5 separate regions of the Homo sapiens genome follow, and all the other regions are linked to region 3. Evidence: fine-mapped expression QTL. A gene starts in region 3. Each other region holds a variant in brackets. All regions are shown on one strand. Distances are between the middles of the regions. Region 1 overlaps NDE1 (nudE neurodevelopment protein 1). Region 2 overlaps MYH11 (myosin heavy chain 11). Region 3 holds the start of NDE1 (nudE neurodevelopment protein 1). Region 4 overlaps MYH11 (myosin heavy chain 11). Region 5 overlaps NDE1 (nudE neurodevelopment protein 1).

What was found. PIP is the estimated chance that this variant, and not a neighbour inherited with it, causes the effect.
Region 1: its variant is the best candidate, but not a certain one, in a credible set for the expression of NDE1 in monocytes after Pam3CSK4 (Quach 2016, PIP 0.59).
Region 2: its variant is the best candidate, but not a certain one, in a credible set for the expression of NDE1 in whole blood (TOPMed, PIP 0.80).
Region 4: its variant is the best candidate, but not a certain one, in a credible set for the expression of NDE1 in whole blood (INTERVAL, PIP 0.90).
Region 5: its variant is the best candidate, but not a certain one, in a credible set for the expression of NDE1 in lymphoblastoid cells (GTEx, PIP 0.73).

The regions. Positions count from the first base shown.
Region 1 is chr16:15,693,582-15,698,682 of GRCh38, forward strand. NDE1 (nudE neurodevelopment protein 1) reads left to right here. Exons shown (of 9, transcript NM_017668.3): 7 at 584-675; 8 at 3,128-3,279. Among named protein-coding and RNA genes, the nearest start is that of NDE1, 46 kb to the left of the region's middle. The variant ATT/A (reference allele first, on the strand shown) is at 2,467.
Region 2 is chr16:15,740,640-15,745,740 of GRCh38, forward strand. It overlaps MYH11 (myosin heavy chain 11), which reads right to left. Exons shown (of 41, transcript NM_002474.3): 20 at 4,490-4,598; 21 at 1,121-1,252; 22 at 824-1,030. Among named protein-coding and RNA genes, the nearest start is that of NDE1, 93 kb to the left of the region's middle. The variant G/C (reference allele first, on the strand shown) is at 1,978.
Region 3 is chr16:15,647,444-15,652,544 of GRCh38, forward strand. It overlaps NDE1 (nudE neurodevelopment protein 1), which reads left to right and starts at 2,802. Exons shown (of 9, transcript NM_017668.3): 1 at 2,802-2,851. RefSeq lists enhancers at 2,503-3,004, 3,005-3,504.
Region 4 is chr16:15,733,692-15,738,792 of GRCh38, forward strand. It overlaps MYH11 (myosin heavy chain 11), which reads right to left. Exons shown (of 41, transcript NM_002474.3): 24 at 4,874-4,997; 25 at 3,758-3,929; 26 at 1,675-1,887. Among named protein-coding and RNA genes, the nearest start is that of NDE1, 86 kb to the left of the region's middle. RefSeq lists an enhancer at 2,731-3,487. The variant G/C (reference allele first, on the strand shown) is at 3,187.
Region 5 is chr16:15,725,199-15,730,284 of GRCh38, forward strand. NDE1 (nudE neurodevelopment protein 1) reads left to right here. Exons shown (of 9, transcript NM_017668.3): 9 at 1-1,155. MYH11 (myosin heavy chain 11) reads right to left here. Exons shown (of 41, transcript NM_002474.3): 28 at 1,650-1,856. Among named protein-coding and RNA genes, the nearest start is that of NDE1, 77 kb to the left of the region's middle. The variant G/C (reference allele first, on the strand shown) is at 3,020.

The DNA.
Region 1 (5,101 bases), 46 kb after region 3:
CTTGAAACTAGGAGTTCATGATCAGCCTGGGCAACATAGTGAGACCCTGTCTCTATTAAAAAAAAAATTTGTTAAAGGCCAGGCATGGTGGCTCACGCCCGTAATCCCAGCACTTTTGGAGGCCAAGGCGGGCAGATCATTTGAGGTCAAGAGTTCGAGACCAGCCTGGACAACGTGATGGAACTCTGTCTCTACTAAAAATACAAAAATTAGCCGGGTGTGGTGGCACATGGCTATAATCCCAGCTACTCAAGAGGCCAAGGCAGGAGAATCGCTTGAACCTGGGAGGCGGAGGTTGCAGTGAGCTGAGATCACATCACCGCACTCCAGTCCGGGTGACAGAGCAAGACTAACATGTAAAAATAAGTATTTGTTGCAGTCATCACAAGGACTTGAAAAATTGGTTGTCATACGGGCCTTGGGTGTGTGATGCGGTTAACTACGGAAAGAAATAGGGTAGCTTTTGGGATCCGAGGAAAGGCGTCAGTGTCCCTCCTGTCCCGTGGTTTTGGATCTAGCGATGTTAACGCACAGACATGACTATAGGTTGGTGAGTTACATGCTCTTCCCTTTGCACACCCAGGCCTGGACGACTCCACCGGGGGGACCCCCCTCACACCTGCGGCCCGGATATCAGCCCTCAACATTGTGGGAGACCTACTGCGGAAAGTCGGGGTAAGACCACACTTTCCTGGCGTTTGGTGCCTTCCTGCCTGTCTTTCAGGATGTGTGAAGGGGGTTGATCTAGTTCCTTCCCTCTCTTCTTTTTTTCTTTTTTTTTAGAGACAGGGTCTTGCTCTGTTGCTCAGGCTGGAGTGTAGTGGTATGATCACAACTCACTGCAGCCTCAAAATCCTGGGTTCAAGCGATCCTCTCACCTTAGCTTCCCGAGGAGCTTGGACCACAGGTGTGCGCCACTATGCCTGGCTGATACTTTCATTTTTTTGTAGTAATGTGGGTATCGCTGTGTTGCCCAGGCTGGTCTTAAACTCCTGGCCTCAAGTGATCCTCCCAGGTTGGCCTCCCAAAGTTCTGGGATTACAGGCATGAGCCAATGCGTCCAGCCCCTTTCATAGCAGTGTGGTGAGTTTTAGGTGTGGCTGCTCCTTTAGCATCCCTGGGAATCATTAGAGCTTCCTGTGGGAGTTACTGCCAGACACTCAGAGCTCTGACTCGAAGCCCTGCTCTGAACCCTATGTATGTCTCTTTCCTTTTACCGTTTTTCCTCTAGGAAATTTGGGAAATTAGGGTGATATGTGTGTTTTTTCCTTAACTCGAAAAATTAAGGAGCACTTGGAAACTGCCTTCTCTTTTGGCCGGGTGCTCATACCTGTAATCCCAGTGCTTTGGGAGGCCAAGGTGGGAGATTACTTGAGCTCAGGAGTCTGACACCAGCCCGGGCAACATGGTGAAACCCCCTGCCCCGACTTGGCCTCTACAAGAATGCAAAAATTAGCCAGGCCTGATGGTGTACACTGGTGGTCCCAGCTACTCAGGAGGCTGAGAGGTGGGAGGATTGCTTCAGCCTGGGAGGTTGAGGCTGAGTGAGCTGAGATTCCAACACTGCACTCCATCCTGGGTGACAGCACGACGTTGTCTCAGAAGAGAAAAAAACTGCCACCTTTTTTTTTTTTTTTTTTTTTTTTGGTTTGTTTCTTGGGGTTTAAGTGAATTTTGACACTTTGGGAGACCGAGATGGGTGGATCACCTGAAGTCAGGAATTCAAGACCAGCCTGGCCAACATGGTGAAACCCCATCTCTACTAAAAATACAAAAATTAGCCAGGAATGGTGGTGGGCACCTGCGATCCCAGCTACTTGAGAGGCTTATGCAGGAAAATTGTTTGAATCCGGGAGGCGGAGGTTGCAGTGAGCTGAGATCGCACCGCTGGGTGACAAAGTGAGACTTGGTCTCAAAAAAAAAAAAAAAAAAAATCTTGAAAGCCTAGGGCAAAGAATTTGGCCTTTCAGCTTTTATGTTAATTACAGGGAGGGATCCTTTTGTGCTTAAGTAAAAACATAGGTATTCTTTGTAGTTTATTTTTAAAAATGATGCCTAGAAGGCCACATAATTTAACTCCTACCAAGTTGTCACTGTACACAGTGTATTTGTAGCTACAACTTAATAGAAGCTTGCAACTCATTTCTTTTGTTTTTACTTCTGGTTTTTGGCTGTCTGGTTTGCTATTCTAGAAGCAGGTCTGCATTTCAGTATTTAGCCTAGTTGGAGTATAGAGAAGCCTGGGGTGCTGTCAGTGTCCTTTTGGTTTCCTCAGGGTCTGTTGTAGCCAGACCAAGTCCTTACCAAACTTCTTGCCATTCTGCAGAGGTTTAACAAGGTAAACCAAAGGGTGAAGGATTCCAGAAGTGGATTTCCTACTTCCTACAAGCGGAGTTGGATAATTGGTAGGTTAGTGATTTTTCCAGAAAGCTCCCATTTTAAAAAATTTTTTGTAATTAAAAAAGA[ATT/A]TTTTTTTTTTTTTTAAGCCAAGCATGATTGTGCATAGTCCTAGCTATTCAGGAGGCTGAGGTGGAAGGATTGGTTGAGGCTGCAGTGAGCCGTGATCTTTTTCCAGGCAGCTCCCAAACATTTTAAAAAATTTTTCGTAATTAAAAAAAATTTTTTGCATTAAAAATTTTTTTTATTAACTGGGCATGATTGCGGATGCCTATAATTCCAGCTGCTCAGGAGGCTGAGGTGGGAGGGATTGGTTGAGCCTGGGAGGTTGAGGCTGCAGTGAGCTGTGATCTCACCAGTGCACTCCAGCCTGGGTGACACAGCGTCTAAAAAAGTAAAAAACAAAACAAAAAAAAAAACTGAGATGGGATCTTACTTTGTGGCCCAGGCTGGTCTCAAACTCCTGATGTCAAGCCATCCTCCTGCCTTGGCCTCCCAGAGTGCTGGGATTATAGGTGTGAGCCATTGTGCCCAGCCAGCTCCCAAATACTTAAGGTGCTTGGTTCTGAGACTGGCATATACGTTGGATTCCTCTTGGGGTCCCACCTTGGAATTCCAGTGCACAACAGTTTGAGAACCACTGTCTGGGGTTCGTTCTTCTGTACAGGCTCTGGTAAGACAGAATAGTCCTTGCCTATAACTTGAGAGATAAAAGTGTATTTCTGTCCAGGCACTGGAGTCCAAACTCGCTTCCTGCCGGAACCTCGTGTACGATCAGTCCCCAAACCGAACAGGTGGCCCAGCCTCTGGGCGGAGCAGCAAGAACAGAGATGGCGGGGAGAGACGGCCAAGCAGCACCAGCGTGCCTTTGGGTGATAAGGGGTCAGTACCTTCTAATAAACCTCTCGCTGGCGGGGAGAACCCGCCTGCCCCAGGCAAGAGACACTCACCCCCAGCCCACAGCCATGTGTCTTTTTAAATTATAGGATTATTTCAGCAAACCTTATCCTCTCCTCTGCTCCCTGCAGGCAGCATTAGGTGGTGTCTTGTGGCTTGAACAAAGGGCTAGAGAGAGGGTCTTGTTTTGTGAGACAGGGTCTCACTCTGTCACCTAGGCTAGAATACGATGGCAGGATCATGGCTCACCCTCTGCCTCCCAGCTCAAACGATCCTCCCACCTCAGTCCCCCGAGTAGCTGGGAGTACAGGTGCGTGTCACCGTGCTCGGCTAATTTTTTGTATTTTTTCTAGAGACAGGTTTTGCCATGTTGCCGAGTTTGGTCTCAAACTCTGAGCTTCAAGTGATCCTCACCCTTCATCCTCCCAAAGTGCTGCGACGACAGGTGTGGGCTACCATGCCTGGCCAAGAAGGTCATTTTTATCATTTGATTCTACAGCTGCTACTCACGGTTACACTGTGAGAATGTCCTGTATAAAAGCCCTTATTTGGGCCAGGTGTGGTGACGCTCGCCTGTAATCCCAGCAGTCTGGGAGGCCAAGGCAGGTGGATCACTTGAGGTCAGGAGTTCAAAACCAGTCTGGGCAACATTGGTAAAACCCCATCTCCACCAAAAAAAATAGAAAAATGAGCCAGGCATGGTAGCATGTGCCTATAGTCCCAGCTACTCAGGAGGCTGAGGAAGGAGAATCACTTGAACCCTGGAGGCAGAGATTGCAGTGAGCCAAAATTGTGCCTCTGCACAGCAGCCTGGGTGACAGAGCAAGACTCCATATCAAAAAGTTAATTAATTAGTTAAATAAAAATAAAGCCCTTATTTGGGGAATTGAGCATCAGTCATGGCTCTGCTTCCCCTGAAGTTTTTTTTTTTGTTTTGTTTTGTTTTTTTTTTGAGACGTCTTGCTCTGTCGCCTAGGCTGGAGTGTAGTGGCATGATCTCAGCTCACTGCAACCTCTGCCTCCCAAGTCCAAGCAATTCTCCTGCCTCAGCCTCCTGAGTAGCTGGGATTACAGGCGTGTGCCACCATGCCCAGCTAATTTTTTGTATTTTTAGTCGAGACGGGGTTTCACTGTGTTAGGATGGTCTTGATCTCGTGACATTGTGATCCACCCACCTCGGCCTCTCAAAGTGCTGGGATTACAGGCGTGAGCCACTGCAACCAGCCCTTTTTTTTCTTTTTAAATCTGTAGAACCTTTGAGAAACTGGCACTAACTTCTAGCCCAGACTATGTTCCTGAAACCAGCCACCCGATGGGACAGTGCAGATCTGATCTCTAACAGTGTCATTAATTTTCTTGCCTAAAGAAAATCAGGGCCAGGCTCAGTGGCTCACACTTGTAATCCCAGCACTTTGGGAGGCTGAGGGCAGCGGATCAATTGAGCTCTGGAGGTTGAGGCCGCAGTGAGCCGTGTTCCCAGCCACTGCACTCCAGCCTGGGTGATGAAGCGAGACCTTGTCTCAGAAAAAAAAGGGGCAGCTTTCAGATTCAGGAATTCTGCAAGGTGTGTGACTACCATCTCTCTGGGCCCCAAGCCGTAGGAATTTGATGGGTTTGTAGCAGACACGTGACAGGAAATTAAGAATATTTTCCATGGCATGCACATAACTTTGAGACCTTTACACGTGGATTTTTAGGCCAGGTGCAGTGAAGTGGCTCACACCTGTAATCCCAGCACTTTGGGAGGCAGAAGTGGGTGGATCACTTGAGGCCAGGAGTTCACAAGACCAAACTGGGCAACATGGTG
Region 2 (5,101 bases), 93 kb after region 3:
AAGCTGCTCTGCTTCATGGAACCTCAACCTCCTCATCTATAAAATGAGCACAGTAGGTACCATGGTGGTTTTAAAATCTATCCACAAGTTCTTTGCGACTCCAAAAAGGTGGAGCCTAATTCTCCTCCCCTTGAGTGGGGGTTAGATTTGCTTCTAACAACAACAACAAAAATCAGGAAGAAGTGATGGAATGTAACTTCAGAGATTAGGCTATAAAAGGCATTGCGGCTTCCTTTCTCCTCTCTCAGATCACTCCTTCTGGGGGAACTCTGCTGCCATATTGGAAGGACACTCAAGCAGCCCTGAGGGGAGAGGCCTTCATGATAAGGAACTGAGGCCTCCTCCAACAGCTGTGTGAATAAGCCAAGTAGAAGTGGGTCCTCCAGCCCCAGATGAGCCTTCAGATGACTGCAGCCTCAGCCAACACCTTGACTGCAACCTCAGGCCGGACCCTCAGCCAGAACCACTCACCTAAGCCACTCTCAAATTCCTGACTATGCAATACTTTTTATTTTTAGCTGCTGAGTTTGGCATGTTTTGTTATGTAGCAATAGCTAACAAATACAATTATCCTCCATTCAGGCTTGCTGTTAGGAGAAAAGGGGTTAGCACATGCAAGGCAGGGCAATAGAACAGAGTGGGCTCACTGTGTTCCAGTCCCAATCCCAGCTGTGTGGCCTTGATCAGATGACCAACCCTCTCCAAGCCCCCGTCTCATCATCTGTCCCAGCAGGGACACATATCCCTGGATGCACCTCCACAGGCCTGTGGTGAGGGTCAAGTGATTTGCTACCCACCACGGGCTGCCCCTGTGACACCTTACCAGCATCTGCTGGGCCATCTTCTTCCTTTCAGCCTGTAGCTGCTGGCCCCTGTCTTCCTCCTCCTCCAGGCGGGCCTCCATCTCATGCAGTATCTCCTCCAGCTCCTGCTTCTTGGCCGCCAGCCGCACCCGCATCTCCTCAGCCTCTGCATACAGCTCTGTCTCTGCCTGCAGCTGTTCCTGTAGCAGGTTCTTCTCCTCGGTCAGCTGCACGCAGGTGGTGGGGAGGAGGCGGGTGAGCCCCACGGGGCCAAGTCCTGTTCCCCAGCAACCCCAGCCATGCATCCATACAGGTACCTGCGAGTGCTTCTGTTCCAGCTCCTTAAGCTCATTCTCTGCCTTCTGCTGCCGCTCCTTGGTCTTCTGCAGTTCATCCTCCTTGGCCTGCATCTCCTCCTCCTGCCGTGTCACCTGCAGCAGTGGCTTCACCTGCACACACACGGTTAGCCCATCATTTGTTTTTGTGGCAAAGGGATATGTTGTCATAATAAATTCGATCAGTGGTTCCGAGCCAGGGACAATGTTGCCCCCACCGATCCCCACTAGGGGATATTGTCTGGAGACACTGCTGATTGTCACAGCTGGGGTGGGGGGTGCCTCTGGCATCCAGTGGGTAGAGGCCAGGGATACTGCTAAACACCCTACAGTGCACAGGACAGCCCCCACAACAGAATTAGTCACCCCAAAATATCAACAGTGGCAAGACTGAGGAGCTCTAAATCAGAGCACCAGAAAAGGTACAAAGTGAAAGGAAAAAGTCTCATCTTCCCCACTTTAGAACCATCCCAACAGAGAACTACTGCTGAAAAGTGATATTTCCTTCCAAGGACAAAAGGGAGAAAAAAAATCTTTCATATCCCACCCACCTCCCTATCAAAGTCATTATTAACATTGTTTACATTTCCTTCCTGGCTCTTTTTCTATGTTTAAAAAATAGACTTAAGACCATGCTGCCTAGTTGTAGAGGCTGCTTTTATTATTTAAAATTATATGATACAGACAGGAACAGTGATGCATGCCTGTAATCCCAGCATTTTGGGAGGCCGAGGCAAGCGCTTGAGCCCAGGAGTTTGGGACCAGCCTGGGCAACATCATGAGACCCCATCTCTACAAAAACAAGTAACCAGGCATGGTGGTGTGTGCCTGTAGTCCCA[G/C]CTAGTGAGGGGTCTGAGGCAGGAAGATCGCTTGAACCCTGCAGGCTGAGGCTGCAGTGAGCCACGATTGTGCCACTGCACTCCAGCCTGGGTGACACAGTGAGACCCTGTCTCCACAAATAAAATTTTTTTAAAAATTATAAGATATGTATTACCCCATGCTGTTACATCATTCTTACAACTTTACATAGCCATCTTTTAAGTTAATTTATTTATTTAGCGATGGTCTTGTTTTGTCACCCAGGCTGGAGTGCAGTGACACAATCATAGCTCACTGCAGCCTTGAACTCCTGGCCTCAAGCGATCCTCCCACCCCAGCTCCAGAGTAGCTGGGACTACAGGCACATGCCACAGTGTCCAACTAGACAGCTAGGTAGAAGTCTTTTTTTTTTTTTTTTTTAGCAGACCTATTCAGTAGCCAAAGCCATCATTTTAATAGCTGAAAACATTCCATTGATAGATGAACCATTATTGAACTCATCATTCAGCTAGGACTGGACACTGAAATTCTGCTATTGTAAATAAGGCCATAATGAATGCCCTTAACTCTTGATTTTCTTTTCTCTTTTTCAGGTGGAGTCTCGCCCTGTCACCCAGGCTGGAGTGCAGTGGCACGATCTCAGCTCACTGAAACCTCTGCCTCCTCGGTTCAAGTGATTCTCCTGCCTCAATCTCCTGAGTAGCTGGGATTACAGGTGCCCACCACCACACCTGGCTAATTTTTGTATTTTCAGTAGAGATAGGGTTTCGCCATGTTGGCCAGGCTGGTTTCGAACTCGTGAACCCAGGTGATCCTCCTGCCTTGGCCACCCAAAGTGCTGGGATTACAGGCATGAGCCACCACACCTGGCTAAGACGATTTTCTTAGGATAGTTTTTCAGAAGTTGGTTCAGTGGGGACGAACATTTCCAAAAAGCAGCATCTGCTGTCCTTCCCTGGGCTGCCTCCTAACTCTTTGTTTTCAAGCCCCTGCCTGGCACAAGGAAGCCCCTGCTATGTACTCCAGCAGCTTGCTTCATGCACTTATCACAGTTTGCCATTATGTATCTGTCTCTGTGATTATCTGTTTATTGTTTACTCCCCACCAATTCGGCTAGAATATTCATGGAGGTCAGGGACCATGGTGTGTGTTCACAGCTGCACCCCCAGCACCTAGCATGTGCCTGGGATACAGCAGGCACTCAATGTCTGTTTGCTTGGTGAAAAAGCCTTGCACCAGTGGATACACTCAAGGGCATATAAGGAGAAGCCTAGTCTATTGCAACAGAGCATGTCTTTGTGCCATGGGGACAATGCAACCAGTGCCACTACAGGAACCAGTTGAGTCCTCTGGAGGCCCTGACTCTGCCAGAAATAAAAAATAATATGCTATGGCCAGATGAGGTGGCTCATGCCTGTAATCCCAGCACTTTGGGAGCCTGAAGCAGGAGGGTTGCTTGAGGTCAGGAGTTCAAGACCAGCCTGGGTAACAGAGTGAGACTCCATTTCAAAAAATGCAAAAAGTAAAAAAAAAAAAACCTGCAGTATTGATACATGCAACAGTCTGGATGCTCTCTAATTCCATGTATAGAATATTTGTTTTATTTTTTTTTGAGACGGAGTCTCGCTCTGTCACCAGGCTGGAGTGCAGTACAGTGGCGCGATCTCAGCTCTCTGCAACCTCTGCCTCCCAGGTTCAAGTGATTCTCTTGCCTCAGCCTCCTGAGTAGCTGTGACTACAGGCGTTTGCCACCACGCCCAGCTAATTTTTGTACATTTAGTAGAGACAGGGTTTCACCATCTTGGCCAGGATGGTCTTGATTTCTTGACTTTGTGATCCACCCGCCTCGGCCTCCCAAAGTGCTGGGATTACAGCCGTGAGCCACCGTGCCTGGCCTTTTTTTTAAATAAAAAAAAAAAGAAAGAAGAGACAGAGTCTCAATCTTTCACCCAGGCTGGAGTGCAGGCATGATCTTGGCTCACTGCAACCTCTGTCTCCTGAGTTCAAGAGATTCTCCTGCCTTAGCCTCCTGAGTATCTGGGATTACAGGTGCCTGCCACCATACCCAGCTAATTTTTGTATTTTAAGTAGAGACAGGGTTTTGCCATGTTGGCCAGGCTGGTTTTGAACTCCTGACCGCAAGTGATCCGCCTGCCTCGGCCTCCCAAAGTGCTGGGATTACAGGCGTGAGCCGCCGCCCCCGGCAGCATTCTTGAACCATCAAAATTACAGAACTGGAGAACAGAGTGGTTTCCATGGCTACGGAGGAAGTGGGTGTGGCTATAAATGGGCCACACGAGGGATTCCAGTGCGGATGGAAATATTAATACTTTGTGTTAAGGTCCTGGCTATAGCCTATGTGCCAAAGGACAGGGCCTCCTCGGGCCAGAGAACCGCCAATGCTCAAGGTCTGAGTTCGAGCCCTCCATTCCACACCCACTTGCGACCACCTCCTGTCCCAAATGTGAAGGCTCCAGAGTGAAGAAGCAGGGCTGGGGGCCCCTGGGAAGGGGGCTGGGGCAGAGCACTCACTTTGGTGAAAAGCCTCCACCACTGCCAGTTCCGCAGCTTGAGGTAGGCGGCGCAGTTCCTCTGAATCACCTTCATGGCGGTCAGCTGCTGCTGCCTCTTGGCAAAAGCCCTAGGGAGGGGGGAAGAGAAGGTGCGGGGGTCATGAAGCCACACCCTGCTGTCAACAGAGCCCTGCCCTGCAGCATCCTGAACCTGCACAGGGACATGCCCCAATCTCCCCAACTCAGGTTCTTCCAGAAACCCTGTGTGACACATGTGTTGTCTGGCTGCAAACAACTTAAATCATCTACAGGACAGAGCCTTTTTCAGTGGACAAGGAAGACCCAGGGCTCACAACATGCCCTGGACTTAGCTGAGATCCAAACACCACTCAGAAAACACAACTATGTGCATCATTCCTAAGGGGGCTCCCGTACTCCCCAGCTGCACTAGCTGTTTCTTTTTTCTTTCTTTCTTTTTTTTTTTTTTTTTTTTTTGAGATAGAGTTTCGCTCTTGTTGCCCAGGCTGGAGTGCGGTGGCACGATCTCAGCTCACTGCAAACTCCACCTCCGGGGTTCAAGTGATTCTCCTGCTTCAGCCTCCTGAGTAGCTTGGATTACAGGTGCCCACAA
Region 3 (5,101 bases):
CTTTAACATGGATACAATTTAATGCTTTCCTGTGGTTCATCACCTGTGGTTCAGTTGCATGGTCTCCTCTCTACAGTGGCCTTCCCTGACTATAGCATCTGAAGTGACCCCTCCCAGCCCGTTGTATCAAATGGGCTTGCCTTAGTCATAGCACTTATCAGTATCTGAAATGACGTTACTTTTTCTGCTTATAGATTTAGTATGTTTCTCTCTTAACAATATAAGCCCTTTGAGGACAGGTACTTTGTCTGACTGTATTCACTGTGCTGTAAGGGTGCATTGTACAGAAGAATGCTCATAATGCCGGGTGCTGTGGTTCATGCCTATAATCCCAGCACTTTGGGAGGGAGGCTGAGGCAGGAGGATCACTTGAGCCCAGGAGTTCAAGACCAGCCTGGGCAACATAGTGAGATCCACGTCTCTACAAAAAAATGTAAAAATTAGCTGGGCGTGTTGGTGCACACCTGTGGTCCTAGCTACTCCGGAGGATGAGGTGGGAGGATCACTTGAGCCTGGGAGGTCCAGGATGCAGTGAGCTTTGATTATGCCACTGCACTCCAGCCTATGTCACAGGGTGAGACTCTGTCTCACAAAAAAAAAAAAAAGCTGGATAATAATATATATATTTTTAGTTTTTATGGGTACACTGTAGGTGTTTATATTTATGGGGTACATGAGATATTTTGATAACAGGCATGCAATGCATCATAATCACATCAGGGTAAATGGGTGTCCATGACCTCAAGCATTTATCCTTTCTTTGTGTTACAAGCACTCCAATTATACTCCTTTAGTTATTTTAAAATGTACAATACATTGTTGTGGACTGTAGTCACCCTGCTGTGCTCCCAAATACTAGATCTTATTCATTCTAACTCTATTTTTGTACCCACTAACCAGAATGTTCGGTATTTGTTAATGAACATGTTATGACAGGATGTTTTAGAAGAAAATAAAGAAAAAAAGAAATTCCAGCCAAGCATGGTGGCTTGATTTTATTTATTTATTTATTTTGAGATGAAGTCTCCCTCTGTCTCCCAGGCTGGAATGCAGTGGCGTGATCTCCACTCACCGCAACCTCTGCCTTCTGAGTTACATGGCTCACGCCTGTAATCCCAGCACTTTGGGAGACTGAGGTGTATTGCTTGAGGTCAGGAGTTCGAGACCAGCCTGGCCAACACAGTGAAACCGTGTCTCTACTAAAAATACAAAAAATTAGCTGGGCGTAATGGTGGGCGCCTGTAATCCCAGCTACTAGGGAGACTAAGACAAGAAAATCGCTTGAATCTGGGAGGCAGAGGTTGCAGTGAGCCGAGATCGCACCATTGCACGCCAGCCTGGGCAACAAGAGGGAAACTCTGTCTCGAAAAGAAAAAAATTATTTTTTAATTTTAATTTGTTAGTGAACAATTAGGGTTGCTGTGAGAATTGTGCCTGGCACACACAGCCATTTAAAAATCACGATCTTCAGGCAGTGTGTGGTGGCTCACGCCTGTAATCCCAGGACTTTGGGAGGCCGAGGTGGGTGGATCACCTGAGGACAGGGATTCGAGAGCAGCCTGGCCAACATGGTGAAACCCCGTCTCTACTAAAAATATAAAAATTAGCCGGGTGTGGTGATGCGGGCCTGTGATCCCAGCTACTCGGGAGGCTGAAGCAGGAGAATTGCTTGAACTCAGAAGGCAGAGGTTGCAGTGAGTGGAGATCACGCCACTGCATTCCAGCCTGGGAGACAGAGGGAGATTTCATCTCAAAATAAATAAATAAACAAAATCAAGATCATTTAACAAATACATATATTGTACTTACTAAGTTCAAATTTCTGTTCTAAACGTTTTTACAAATGCTGTTAAGTCATTTAGTCCTCTGCATAATGTCGTTTGTTTGTTTGTCTGTTCTTTAAGACGGAGTCTTGCCCTGTCGCCTAGGCTAGAGTGCAGTGGTGTGATCTCGGCTCACTGCAACCGCCACCTCCCGGTTTCCCGTGATTCTCCTGCCTCAGCCTCCTGAGTAGCTGGGATTACAGGTGCGTGCCACCACATCCGGCTAATTTTTTGTATCTTTAGTAGAGACGGGGTTTCACCATGTGCCAGGCTGGTCTTGAACTCCTGACCTCGTGATCCACCCGCCTTGGCCTCCCAAAGTGCTGGGATTACAGGCGTGACCACCGCGCCAGACCCATAATGGCGTTTTATAGATGGGGAAACGGAGTCATAGAGGCTAAACAACTTTCCCAAGACCACACAGTTAGTAAGGGGCAGGACTAGGACTCAAAGCCAAGTTTATGACCAAATTCTGGTGCACTACGTTCTCCTGCTTCTGGAGAAGATAATGATGCTGAAGATTCTACTTTTGGTGTAAAGGAGTAGGAAGGGCACGGGGCACTGCTAGCTTCAGTGGGCCTGAATCTTTGTCTTTCCTTCTGATTTGGAGAAAGTGCAAGAATGGGAAAATGCAATCGAAGTGAAGGAGAGGCCGGCGTATTTTCCTGAAATGCGCGGCCCGCAAGCCCAAACCCGTTTCCCGGGTGTCCAGGCAGCGTTCTGCAGCATCTCCAATGCCCGCCAGCCCGCCGCAGCCCAGCGCCCGGCAGCCGGCGCCTCTCAAACCCCCTCCGGCCAGGAGCCTTCGCCGCTTGGCCGCGCCGCGCCCGGCCTGGGAAAAAAGTTTCCAAACGACGCTGCTCTGCGCTGATTGGCCGAGGCGGACGCGGTACCGTAGAGCAGCAGCCAATGGGAGGCGCCGACCGCAGGCTCCGGGGCGGGGGCGGGGTCCGGAGGGCCGGGGCCGCACCGCCCTTCGCAGCCGCCTCTGCCGCCGCCGCCGCGTTGGCCTCGCCGCCCCTGCTCGGGTAAGTGAGGCGCTGCGCGGGGCTGGGGTCGGGGTGGCTGTCCGGGGACCTCCACCGCGGCTGAAAAGCTCCTCTGCCCCGCCCCAGGATCCCGGGACCCCGGGCCACCGCCTGGCAGGGACCCCTACGCCCCTCGCTTGCGCGTCGCTTCCCGGCCGCCTGGACTCCCCCGGTCCCTGGGCTCCAAAATCCCGCCTCCCTGGAGCCTCCCGTCCTAAAAAGTTAGGCACTGAGTGCCTTGCCACCGGTGCGTTCCTCGCGCTGGCCCCTCGCCCTTGGCAACTTTGTTTCTCTTTCTGCGTTGGTCTCTCTCCCACCCCGTTGCCCTCTTCTCCTTCCGGGACTTCCTGGGTGGTTAAGCCTTGCCGGTCCCCAAACCCCGCTGCCAGGCTCCATCCTCTTTCTCCTCTTCCTTCCTCCCCATACTCCTCTCCTAGATGACCCTCGTTTCTTTTCTCTCTCTCTCCTATTCCTCCATCCTGCCACCCGCTTCTCTGCGACCCCAGACCCCTCGATTGCAGCGTTGCCCCTGCCCTCACACCCACTGTCCCGCCCCTGCAGGCCTCTTTCCAAAAACCCACCCTGCTCCCTCCCTCCGGGAACACGTTTGGGGCAGTCTGCTCTCCGCTTTGCTCCCGTCTCTGCCGCAGGACGGTTCAGGTTTCTTCTGACAGCACTTTGGGGAGGGATTGGGTAAAGGACGAAAATGCTTATTCCGCAGCTTGAGTGATGGCTGGGCTCACTGAGGACCTGAGTCTCTGAGGTCCTGGGAAACCCCGCTGTCACCTTGACACCGCTTTTGGGGAGGCGACTTTATCTTCTCCGAGCCATCTCAGGCTTTCTGCCTCCTGAGGGCCTGAGCTTCCTTGATTGCTTTGTCCGTGGTTACTACCAGGTTGTGCCTCTTAATTTCTACTTTGAGCCTCAGGCCCCTTTTAACTTTCTAAAGAAAAGGCCTTTGCAGCACGACCTAGGCAGGTTCATCATTTTTAGTTTTGTTATAGTGTATTCTAGCATAGGATGGCATTTTAGGACATGGGTCGGGTGTTTTGAAGATTAATTAGATCCCAGCTACTCCTAAAGCCTCTTGTTACCCGACCACCCCAGCCTCCATCACCTCGTTGGTATACAACCCGTTTTTTTTTTTTTTTTTTTGTTTTTGTTTTTGAGACAGAGTCTCACTCTCGCCCAGGTTGGAGTGCAGTGGTGCGATTTTGGCTCACTGCAACCTCCGCTTCCCGGGTTCAAGCGATTCTCCTGCCTCAGCCTCCGGAGTAGCTGGGACTACAGGTGCGTGCCACCACGCCTGGCTAATTTTTTGTATTTTTAGTAGAGATGGGGTTTCACCGTGTTAGCCAGGATGGTCTCGATTTCCTGACCTCGTGATCTGCCCCCTCGGCCTCCCAAAGTGCTGGGATTACAGGCGTGAGCCACCGTGCCGGCCTACAACCCATTTTGAGCCTTTCCTCTTAGTGTGTGTTTTGTGTAGGATTAAATGCAGATGATCTGTGCCGCTGAAGTCTCAGGGGCCTGTGATTCATATATTTTATCCCATGTTGGATAACAGTTTATTAACTTGACTTATTTTTGTTTCCAAAGTGTGTTATTTATTATTTATTTATTTATTTATTTTGAGACGGAGTCTTGTTCTTGTCCAGGCTGGAGTGCAGTGGCATGATCTCGACTCACTGCAACCTCAGTCCTCCGGGTTCAAGTGATTCTTCTGCCTCACCCTCCTGAGTAGCTGGGATTACAGGTGCGTGCCACCATGCCCGGCTAATTCTTAGTAGAGATGGGGTTTCACCATATTGGCCAGGCTGGTCTCAAACTTCTGACCTCGTGATCTGCCCACCTCAGCCTCCCAAAGTGTTGGGATTACAGGCATGAGCCACTGCACCCGACTCTATCATTATTATTATTTTTTATGTAGAGGCAGAATCTTGCTTTGTTGCCCAGGCTGGTCTCAAATTCCTGGGCTCAAGCAGTCCTCCTGCCTTGGCCTCCCACAGTGCTGAGATTACTTGCAGGCATGAGCCACTGCATGCAGCCCAAAGTGTGTTCTTTTGCCTTAGAATGTGAGCCGAGAATTGACACTCCTTTTCCTCACAAGGTAATTTCCTAACATGAGCATTCCTGTGTACAGAAAGTTTGTGCCTGCAGTTAGTACTACACGTGCACCTCGTGCAATGGATGTGGGTGCTTTTTGTCTGCCTCCTTCAGCAGTGCCCAGCACTTAGTAGGTATTCAAGA
Region 4 (5,101 bases), 86 kb after region 3:
ACCACCACGCCCGGCTAATTTTTGTCTTTTTAGTAGAGACAGGTTTTCATGATGTTGGCCAGGCTGGTCTCGAACTCCTGACCTCAGGTGATCTGTCTGCTTCAGCCTCCCAAAGTGCTGGGATTACAGGCATGAGCCACCATACCTGGCCCATGCACTGGGCTCTTCTGTATCAAAGGCCAAGCGGCAAGGGAGCAGAACGCTGTGCTCTATGTGCATGTGACACTGCACAAAACCCAAAGTGGGGGAAGTAAACCCCAGGGTATATGGTGTTGGCACAGCTAGCATAGCTATATGCTATGATACATGCTATGCCAACACCACAGATTGCATCAAAATACATTTATGTGTTTACTGAATGAATCAATGACCTAGTTTCACTAGAGTCAGGATTCGTGATCTGGCAGGCAGTTTGTTATTGTTTGTTCATTTGAAGTGAATCTTCAATTGAAAACCAATCTGATCAATTTTATTTTTAAAATTTAACACAAAAGTGATACACACACATACTTGGGAATTGGAGCTTGGGGACTGACTGATACACACACAGACAGGAAGGAATTTCTCAAGAATGTTAACTGGTGTGACTAAGGGTGATTTTTTTGTTTTTTGTTTTTTTTTGAGATGGAGTCTCACTCACTGTGTCACCCAGGCTGGAGTGCGATGGTGCGATCTCAGCTCACTGCAACCTCTGCCTCCCAGATTCAAGTGACTCTACTGCCTCAGCCTCCTGAGTAGCTGGGATTTACAGGCATGCGCCACCACGCCCAGGTAATTTTTGGATTTATAGTAGAGACAGGGTTTCACCATGTTGGCCAGGCTGGTCTTGAACTCCTGACCTCAAGTGATCCACCTGTCTTTGGCCTCCCAAAGTGCTGAGATTATAGGCGTGAGCCCGACCCTAAAGGTGATTTTTTTTTATGTCTGCTTTTCTATAGTTTTCAAATTGTTCTCTGAGTATATCCAAGCTTACCAATGAGGATGGTTTTGAATGCAGCCTGACACAGAGTCATAAACTTTCTTAAAACAGTATGAGATGTTTTTTCCAATTTGTAAAATTTTTTTAGTTGATCAGCTATTATTAGTGTTAGTGTATCTTATGTGTGGCCCAAGACAAATCTTTTTCTTCCAATGTGGCCAAGGGAAGCCAAAAGATTGTACATCCCTGGTATATACTACTCTTCTGATGAGAAATAAGATGATGAGGGTCGGGTGCAGTGGCTCACACATGTAATACCAGCAGTTTGGGAGGCGGAAGTGGGTGGATCACTTGAGGCCAGGAGTTCAAGTCCAGCCTGGGCAACATGGCAAAACTCCATCTCTACTAAAAACAAAAAATTAGCCGGGTGTGGTGGCACATACCTGTAATCCCAGCTACTCAGGAGGCTGAGGCATGAGAATCGCTTAAATCTCAGAGGTGGAGGTTGCAGTGAGCCAAGATGGCACAACTGCACTCCAGCCTAGGCAACAAAGCCAGACTGCCTCAAAAAAAAAAAAAAAAGAAAGAAAAAAAAGAAACAGCCAACCATGCTTCTATAAGTTAAAGCAAACCGCGGCCAGGAAGGTAAATGCACAGGGGCTGATGCACGATTTGCTTTGGGTTTGTCCCCTCTTCTGCCCCCATCCCATTGGTGCAGTGGGATAGCAGGATGGTGGGATTGATGGGCCCCTCACCTGAGCTCCTGCTGAGTGGCTGTGCTGTCCAGTGTGTCTTCCAGCTCTGTCTTTAGGGCCTCCAGCTCCTCGCCGAGGTCTCGCTTCTGCTTTTCAGCCTTGTTCCTGGCGGCCCGCTCTGAGTCCAGGTCCTCCTGGAGGTCTGAGATGTGGCCCTCCAGCTCCCGGATCTTCTTCAGGGCATTGTTCTTCTGAGCGATTTCATCGTCAAGCCTTCCAGGGAGAGACCCAGCAGAATGAACCCCCAGGTCCCTTGGTTTCCTCTCTTACAATGTGGCCAAAAACTTTTCTGGGACCAGACAGTTATGTTGCAGAGACATCAAACACCTTCTATCCATGTCCCCAGGTCTGCTTCTTGACATGCCAGACTATATGAGATTAACATAGGATGTGAGTGCCAAGGTCTGACATCAAAACAGGTTGTACATGTGCATGGGTGTGTGTACGTGTGTATGCACGTGTGTGCATGTGTGTGCAAGAATGCAAAGCATTGACCCCAGACTGGCAAGGTACCTGGTCACAGTAGGGACTGTGTAGATGCTTTCTGAATGTTGGACAGTTCTTCTTCCCTGGCAACTGTCTGTTCTTTCTGCATTTGCTCAGTGACTGAGTACCCGCCCCATGCACAGCATTTGGCCAGCCACTGCTTGCGGGGGATATTCAGACTGGGGCTCTGCATCTGGTGGAGGTGGTGACCAGAGATCAAGGTGGGCTGCAAGAAGCCCTGTTAAATGGCAGAATGCTGCAGGAGAGGCAAGCACTTTGATTTTACTGTACTTGTGAAAGGGCAGCAACAAGAGAGAAAGTGAAATAGTTGGGTTGGGGTGAGACTGCAGAGGGTGGATGGGCTCTGAGGGTGAGGCTAAGGAAACTGGATTTTCCCTAGTAAGCCAGTGAAGTTAGGTTTTTGTTTTGTTGTTATTATTGTTTTGAGACAGGGTCTTGCTCTGTTGCCCAGGCTGGAGTGCAGTGGCATGATCATAGCTCACTTTAGCCTCAACCTCCTGGGCTCAAGTGATCCTCCCATCTCAGCCTCCTGAGTAGCTGGGACTACAGGCACACACCACCATGCCTGGCTCATTTTTTAACTTTTTGTAGGGACAGGGTCTTGCTATGTTGCCCATGTTGGTCTCAAACTGCTGGCCTCAAGCAATCCCCCCACCTCGGCTTCCCAAAGTGCTGAGATTACAGGCGTGAGCCACTGCATCCAGCCAGCAAAGTTTTGTGAGCAGGTTCCTGCCCCAGAGAGATGCTTTCCCTTCATCACCGTAGCACTGTCAACATAGCACAAATTGGCCGACAAAAGAGCCAGGCCAGGGGATCAATCAGAAAGCTTTGAGGCTTAAATCCCAGCTCTGCCTCTTAGAAGCAATGACATTGCTCCTGTTGCGTTACCCCTAGGAGGCTCAGCTTCCTCCTCAAAGACACCGGCAGTACACCTGGCCAGGTGTCTGCAAAGGTATTGCTTGAAAAGAACTTAGCACCGAGTGAGCAGGTAAATAATCATTCATA[G/C]TGGCTGCTGCAGTATTAGCATTAGTGTAAATCCAGCTAAGAGCCAGGAAGAGGGAAAAACCAGAGGAAATGGGTGGGGGACATTTAGAAGGACTGGCAGAATCTGAAGGTTGCTGCTTGCTGTGGGTCGGCAGAAACAAAGGAGGAGATTGGTGTTCACAAAAAAGAGGGCCCTTAGAGGGAGGGGCTGGGGAAAGGAAGGTCATTCCCGCCTTAGACAGGGGTGTTTGAGATGACGGTGGAAATTGACTCATTGGGCAATCGGAAATTCAGAAGGGGGTCTAGATGAGAAAAGCCTGGATGTCGAAGAGGCAGCAGCAACACCATGGGAGTAGGTGAGATCAACTGCAAAGACATGATGTGTTTGCAGGGAAGAGAAGAAAGTCGAAGGTGAGGATCTGGGGGAGTGAACAGGGTCGAGAAGGCTTGTGGGAGGCCTGGCCTGGGAAACGAAGTTCATGCCAAGGGCCTGGGGCCGCCTTGACCAAGACAGCCACTGCGAATGAGCGAATGAGCAGGGGCCCAGGGGATACATGGACACACAGCAAATGCCCCTTGCCAGCCCCGCTACCTGGCCAGGGCCGCCTGCAGCTCCTCCTCCTTCTTGGCCAGCTGCATCTTGAGCTCTGCGATCTGCGCCTGGAGGTCAGCGATCTGCTCGTGGAAGTCGCTGGCATCACCCTCCAGCTTCCGTTTCAGCTTCTCCAGCTCCTGTCGGCTCTTCTCTTCCTTCTTTAGCCGCACTGCAAAAACCAAGGTGCTCTTCAGGAAGGGGAGGCCCCAGAGAGATGCCCGGAAATGAGCCTTCCTGCCCAGGCATTTTACCCGGAGGAGATGAACACATCCCCCAATCAGTAACCATCATAGTCACGGTCTGGACCATTATCTCCCGATGAACAGCACCTTATATTGTCATAATATTATTATTAGTTGAGATGGAGTTTTGCTCTTGTTGCCCAGGCTGGAGTGCAGTGGCGCAATCTCAGCTCACTGCAACCTCCGCCTCCCGGGTTCAAGCAATTCTCCTGCCTCAGCCTCCCGAGTAGCTGGGATTACAGGCGCCCGCCACCACGCCTGGCTAATTTTTGTATTTTGAGACAGGGTTTCACCATGTTGGCCAGGCTGGTCTCCAACTCTTGACCTCGTGATCCGCCCACCTCGGCCTCCCAAAGTGCTGGGATTACAGGCGAGAGCCACCGCACCCAGCCCTTTTATCATATTATTAGTGCATGTGATGACTAAGGGTGATTTCGAGAGGTGGCATAGAGTTAGTTGTCACTCATGGGATGATCTGCCATCCTCAAATTTCCTTTCTGATTTTCCTGCTTTTAAAAATACCCATTCAAGCCCAGGAATAGTGGCTCATGCCTATAATCCCAGCACTTTGGGAGGCCAAGGTGGGAGGACTGCTTGGGCCCAGGAGTTTGAGACTAGACTGAGCATCATAGTGAAACCCCATCTCTACAAAATAAAAAATAAAAAAAAATTAGCTGGGTGTGGTGATGCACGCCTGTAGTCTCAGCTGCTCAGGAGGCTGAGGCAGGAGGATCACTGGAGCTTAGGAGTTTCGGGCTGCAGTGAGCCATGATCGCACCACTGCACTGCAGCCTGGGCAACAGAGCAAGACCTCATCTCTAAAAAAAATAATAAAATAAAATAAAAATAAATCTCTTGGTAGCTGGTTTACCTTCCAGTTCTGAAATCATAGATTCATGCTTGTTTTTCAGCTTGGTAAGATTCTTGGCCTTTTCTTCCTCTTCTGCAAGATTTGTCGTTAAGTCACTAATCCTCTCCTCAAGGAGTTTTCGTTCCTTTTTGGGGAAAGAGAAAGAGATAGCTTTAGGATTTTTCTTTTCTCTAGAATCTATGTTTCACTTTTAGTGATTTCCATGTAAACAGTTGAAAGAAAAACCCA
Region 5 (5,086 bases), 78 kb after region 3:
TCACCTATGAGTTGGGACCCTGGCCCTAGACTCTGTGGTTCTAAGAACTTATTTGAGCCCCAATGGTATTGACTGGGACCTGATCCCACTAAATGGATCCTAGATCCCTGCCAAGGTTGGTAGAGACAAAGCAGCAGGTCTGAGAGTCCAGACGAGGTGCTCTGGCTGGTCCACTCTCTAAGGCTGGAGAAGGGAGACCAGGATGGTACTTGAACGTCCCAGGGATGCTGTCCCATCCCTTCCTTCCTCACTCCTACTCTTTGACCCTGATGGCCAAAGCCAGAGACGCAGGCCCTAAAGGTAAAAACGTCCTCTCTGTATTCTCTGGCTTTTACTCCCTAGTGTCTCTGCATAAGTCCCTTTGAGGCTGTTAGCCTACCCCTCCATCTCTTCCATTGACAAGGAGGATATGAATGATCTTGACACTGCTTATATGAGGGCGGCAAAAGCCCTGCTCTCAACTGCATGTGAGAAAAAAACATCTCACTTAATTCTTCCCTCGCCCCTTGGTCCCTGGCTGTGGACATGTTAAACATTTGTGAAAACTTTGGCCACGTCCCCATGAGTGGCAAGGCAGGGTAAATGGCTATGCCAAGTGAAAGAAGACCAAAGACAAAAAGACCATGTCATTCAGCAGCTTAAAACCCCTCAACAGCTTCACATTGCCCAGAGTAAGGATCAACATACATGTAATAGGTTCTCAAAAGCCCTACATCATCTGGGTACAAGCTCCCCCTCCAACCCCACTCTGTACTATCTCCCCCTACCCCCAACCCCAGCTGGGCACTCCAGCTCTACTGGCTGTATGTCTCTCTCCTAATTTTTCTACTTACCACAGGGCCTTTGCACACGCTGTTCCCTCTGCCTGGTAGACTTATCCATGCTCCTTAGGGAAGCCTTTCGTGGCTCCTCCTCCCCCAGGTTAGGCCCCCTGGTTATTTACACTTGGGCATCATGTGCCTTCCCTTTGCTGCATCATTTGACATTCATTTGTGTGATTATTCATGTCTTTCCCTTCCCTTCCCTTCCCCTTACTCGGCTGGAGTCCTACTGGGGCAGCGACAGTGTCTCTTCTTCCTTGCTGTTGGATCTCAGGATTAAGCACAGTGCCTGGCATACAGCAGGTGCTCAATAAATACTTATCAAATTGGAAAAGGAAGGGTTTTTTTTCTTTTTTTTTTTTTTTCCTGAGACAGAGTTTTGCCCTTTTAGCCCAGGCTGGAGTACAATGGTGCGGTCTCCGCACACTGCAACCTCTGCCTCCTGGGTTCAAGCTATTCTCCTGCCTCAGCCTCCCGAGTAGATGGGACTACAGGTGCCCACGACCACGCCTGGCTAATTTTTGTATTTTTAGTAGAGACTTTTCACCATGTTGGCCAGACTGGTCTCAAACCCCTGACCTCAGGTGATCCACCCACCTCTGTCTCCCAAAGTGCTGGGATTACAGGCATGAGCCACCGTGCCTGGCCAGAAGGTTTTTTTAATATTTAATTGAACAGGGAGATCATCGCCTCTCCTCCAGGAACGCAACTAGAGGAAAGGACTTGCCTTGCAGCAAGAGAGACCTCAGCGAGCCGGGAAGAGGCTCCTCCCCACAGAACTGGGCACCACCCAGCACTGCCCACCACACCACCGCGCCACCTCCTCACCTGCAGCTTGTGGACTTTGTCATTGAGCTCCGCCCGGGCCCGCTCCCCATCGCTGCACTTGGACTGCAGCTCCTGCACCTGCGCCTCCAGCTTCTTCTTCTTATGTTCCACCTCCTGCTTGGCCTGGCCCAGGACCCGCAGCTCCCCGGCCAGGTCTGCGTTCTCTTTCTCCAGCGTCTGCTTATTCTTGTCTAGGTTCGCCTTGGCCTGGCGAAGGAAGCAGAGGGGAGGGATAACAGGGAGGCTGTGGCCGGGAGAACGTTTCAGGCCCTGCCCTTTCCTCCCTCAGAGAGGTCCAGGAAGGCACACAACAGGGGGCACACAATCACCAGTAAGAGATTTGGGGTTTTTTTGTTGTTATTTTTTTTTTGAGATGGAGTCTTAACTCTGTTACCCAGGCTGGAGTGCCGTGGCACAATCTTGGCTCACTGCAACCTCCGCCTCCCAGGTTCAAACTATTCTCCTGCCTCAGCTGCCCAAGTAGCTGGGATTACAGGCGCCCGCCACCATGCCCGACTAATTTTTGTATTTTTAGTAGAGACGAGGTTTCACCATGTTAGCCAGGCTGCTCTCGAACTCCTGACCTCAAGTGATCCACCCATCTTGGCCTCCCTAAGTGCTGGGATTACAGGCGTGAGCTGCCGCACCCAGCTGATATTTTGGATTCTATTTTCCTAAAGCTCATGGGTTGCAATCTGGAATCCCACAAGCGGTATCCAACCTGCTGACATGTCCCCTTTGACCCTTTCACTACTTTTAAAAAAATGAGTTGCCGACATTTTAATAAATGTCACATAAAAATCTGGATTCCCAGCTTCTTTTTCAAAAAACTTTAATGTTTGAAGGCATGCCATGGCAGCTCATACTTGTCATCCCCAGCACTTTGGGAAGCAGGCAGAAGGATCGCTTAAGGCCAGGAGTACAAGACCAGCCTGGGCAATGTAGTGAGACCCCCATCTCTACTAAAATAAAACATTAGCTGGGTGTGGGGGGCACACACCAGCAATCCCAGCTACTCAGGAGGCGGATGGCAGGCTTGCTTGAGCCCAGGAATTGGAGGCTGCAGTGAGCTATGATCACACCACTGCACTCCAGCCTGGGCAACAAAGTGAGACCCTGTTTCAGAAATAAGTAGCTTTGGGAGGCCAAGGCAGGTGGATCACTTGAGGTGAGGAGTTCGAGACCAGCCTGGCCAACATGGCGAAACTGCATCTCTACTAAAAATGGAAAAATTAGCCGGGCATGGTGGCGCACGCCTGTAGTCCCAGCTACTGGGGTGGCTAAGGCACAAGTATTGCTTGAACCTGGGAGGTGGAGGTTGCAGTGAACCAAGATCATGCCACTGCATTCCAGCCTGGGTAACAGAGTGA[G/C]ACTCCATCTCAATCAATCAATCAATAACTAACATTCTATGTGGTGACTGTGGTGGTGGTAGTTACACAATACACATTTGTTAAAATTAATGGAGCAGTAAAATGGATAAATTTTACTACATATGCCTCAGTAATCCTAAACTTAAAAACAAAAACAAAAAACCAACAACAACGAAAGATCTGGAAACAGAGGGTCTTGCTTTCCTTCAAGGCAACAATCTGCCACATCTAAGTAGCGGCTGGCTCTGCAGGTGGGGCAGTCACCTTTCACCGCCCCCGTCCTTCACAGGTGTCGTGTGATTGACACTGCTACTTCTGTCCTAGTTAAGGGAAACTTATTTTATGGAACCAGCTCCTGTAGGCATGTGAGTTGCCCTACAGGAAAAAAAAAGTGTGTTGGGGCCAGGCGCGGTGGCTCAGGCCTAGAATCCCAGCACTTTGGGAGGCCTATGCAGGCAGGTCACTTGAGGTCAGGAGTTTGAGACCAGCCTGGCCAACATGGTGAAACCCCGTCTCTACTAAAAATATAAAAATTAGCCGGGCATGGTGGCAGTCACCTGTAATCCCAGCTGCTGAGGAGGCTGAAGCAGGAGAATTGCCTGAACCCAGGAGGCGGGGGTTGCAGTGAGCCGAGATCCCGCCAGTGCACTCCAGCCTGGGCGACAGAGTGAGACTTTGTCTCAAAAAAAAAAGCGTGTTGGGCAAAAGTAGGACGCGGTGAGGGGCTTCTTTCCAGGTTGTAGAGAAGGGGAAAGAGAAGCGCAAGTATCCCGAGAGGACGAGACCCACCACTCAGTCTTCCCATAGTCCCTGGGAGGTGCTGGACGTTGACCGGTCAGCCCTGGATGCCCGTCCTCCCTCCAAGACATGACTAAGAGCTGCCAGACCTCAGATGGGGACAGGGAGTCTCTTGGTGGTAACAAAGCAGTGAAGCGGGGACCCTAGGGGACATGGGCTCCCAGAAACCTTAGCCCAGCCTAAGACCCCAGAACTGGGGCCAAACCGCACGAGGGCCTGGGGAGCCCAGGTAGGAGCTGATGTTAAACGTTTCCCCCACAAGCAGATGGAACCAGGTCTCTACATCAGAATTCAAGTTGTTAGAGGCAAAGGCCTCTGTTTCCCTGCACCTGAGATGGGCAGAGGTTTGCACCTCTACCTGCTTTGTGCGGGTCAGTAATGGACATGCCGTCTGCTGGTGGTCTTAATAACTGCGTCTTCCCAAAGAGGCCTGGCTGGGAATGGGCTTGGCTTCTAGCTCCTGTTCACGTCTAATGAACCCCAAGCATGGGGAGGGTCAGTGATTCTGTCTGGGGCCTCACTCTTCCAACCATAATTTTTTTTTTTTTTTTTTGAAACTGAGTCTCACTCTGTTGCCCAGGCTGGGGTGCAGTGGCACAATCTTGGCTCACTGCAACCTTTACCTCCTGGGTTCAAGTGATTTTCATGTCTCAGCCTCCCAAGTAGCTGGGATTACAGGCGACCGCCACCACGTCCAGCTAATTTTTGTATTTTTAGTAGAGACGGGGTTTTGCCATGTTGGCCAGACTGGTCTCAAACTCCTGACCTCAGGTGATCTGCCTGCCTCGGGCTCCCAAAGTGCTGGGATTACAGGCGTGAGCCACTGCACCCAGCCTAATTTTATGTATTTTTAGTAGAGATGGGGTTTCACTATGTTGGTCAGGCTAGTCTTGAACTCCTGACTTGGTGATCCGCCTATCTCAGCCTCCCAAAGTGCTGGGATTATAAGCATGAGCCACCGCGCCCGGCCTTTGGGGGCAGTTTCTAATGGTTTAGCACTATCCCTTTGGTGCTGCCCTCATGAGATCTGGTTGTTTAAAAGTGTCTGGCAGCTCCCCATTCTCTCTCTTCTGCCTGCTCTGGTCATGTAAAACATGCCTGCCTCCCCGTTGCCTTCCACCATGATGGTAAGTTTCCTGAGGCCTCCCCAGAAGCAGAAGCTGCTATGCTTTCTGTACAGCCTGCAGAACCGTGAGCCAATTAAACCTCTCTTCTTTAGAAATTACCCAATCTCAGGGTGGTGCAGTGGCTCACACCTGTCATCTCAGC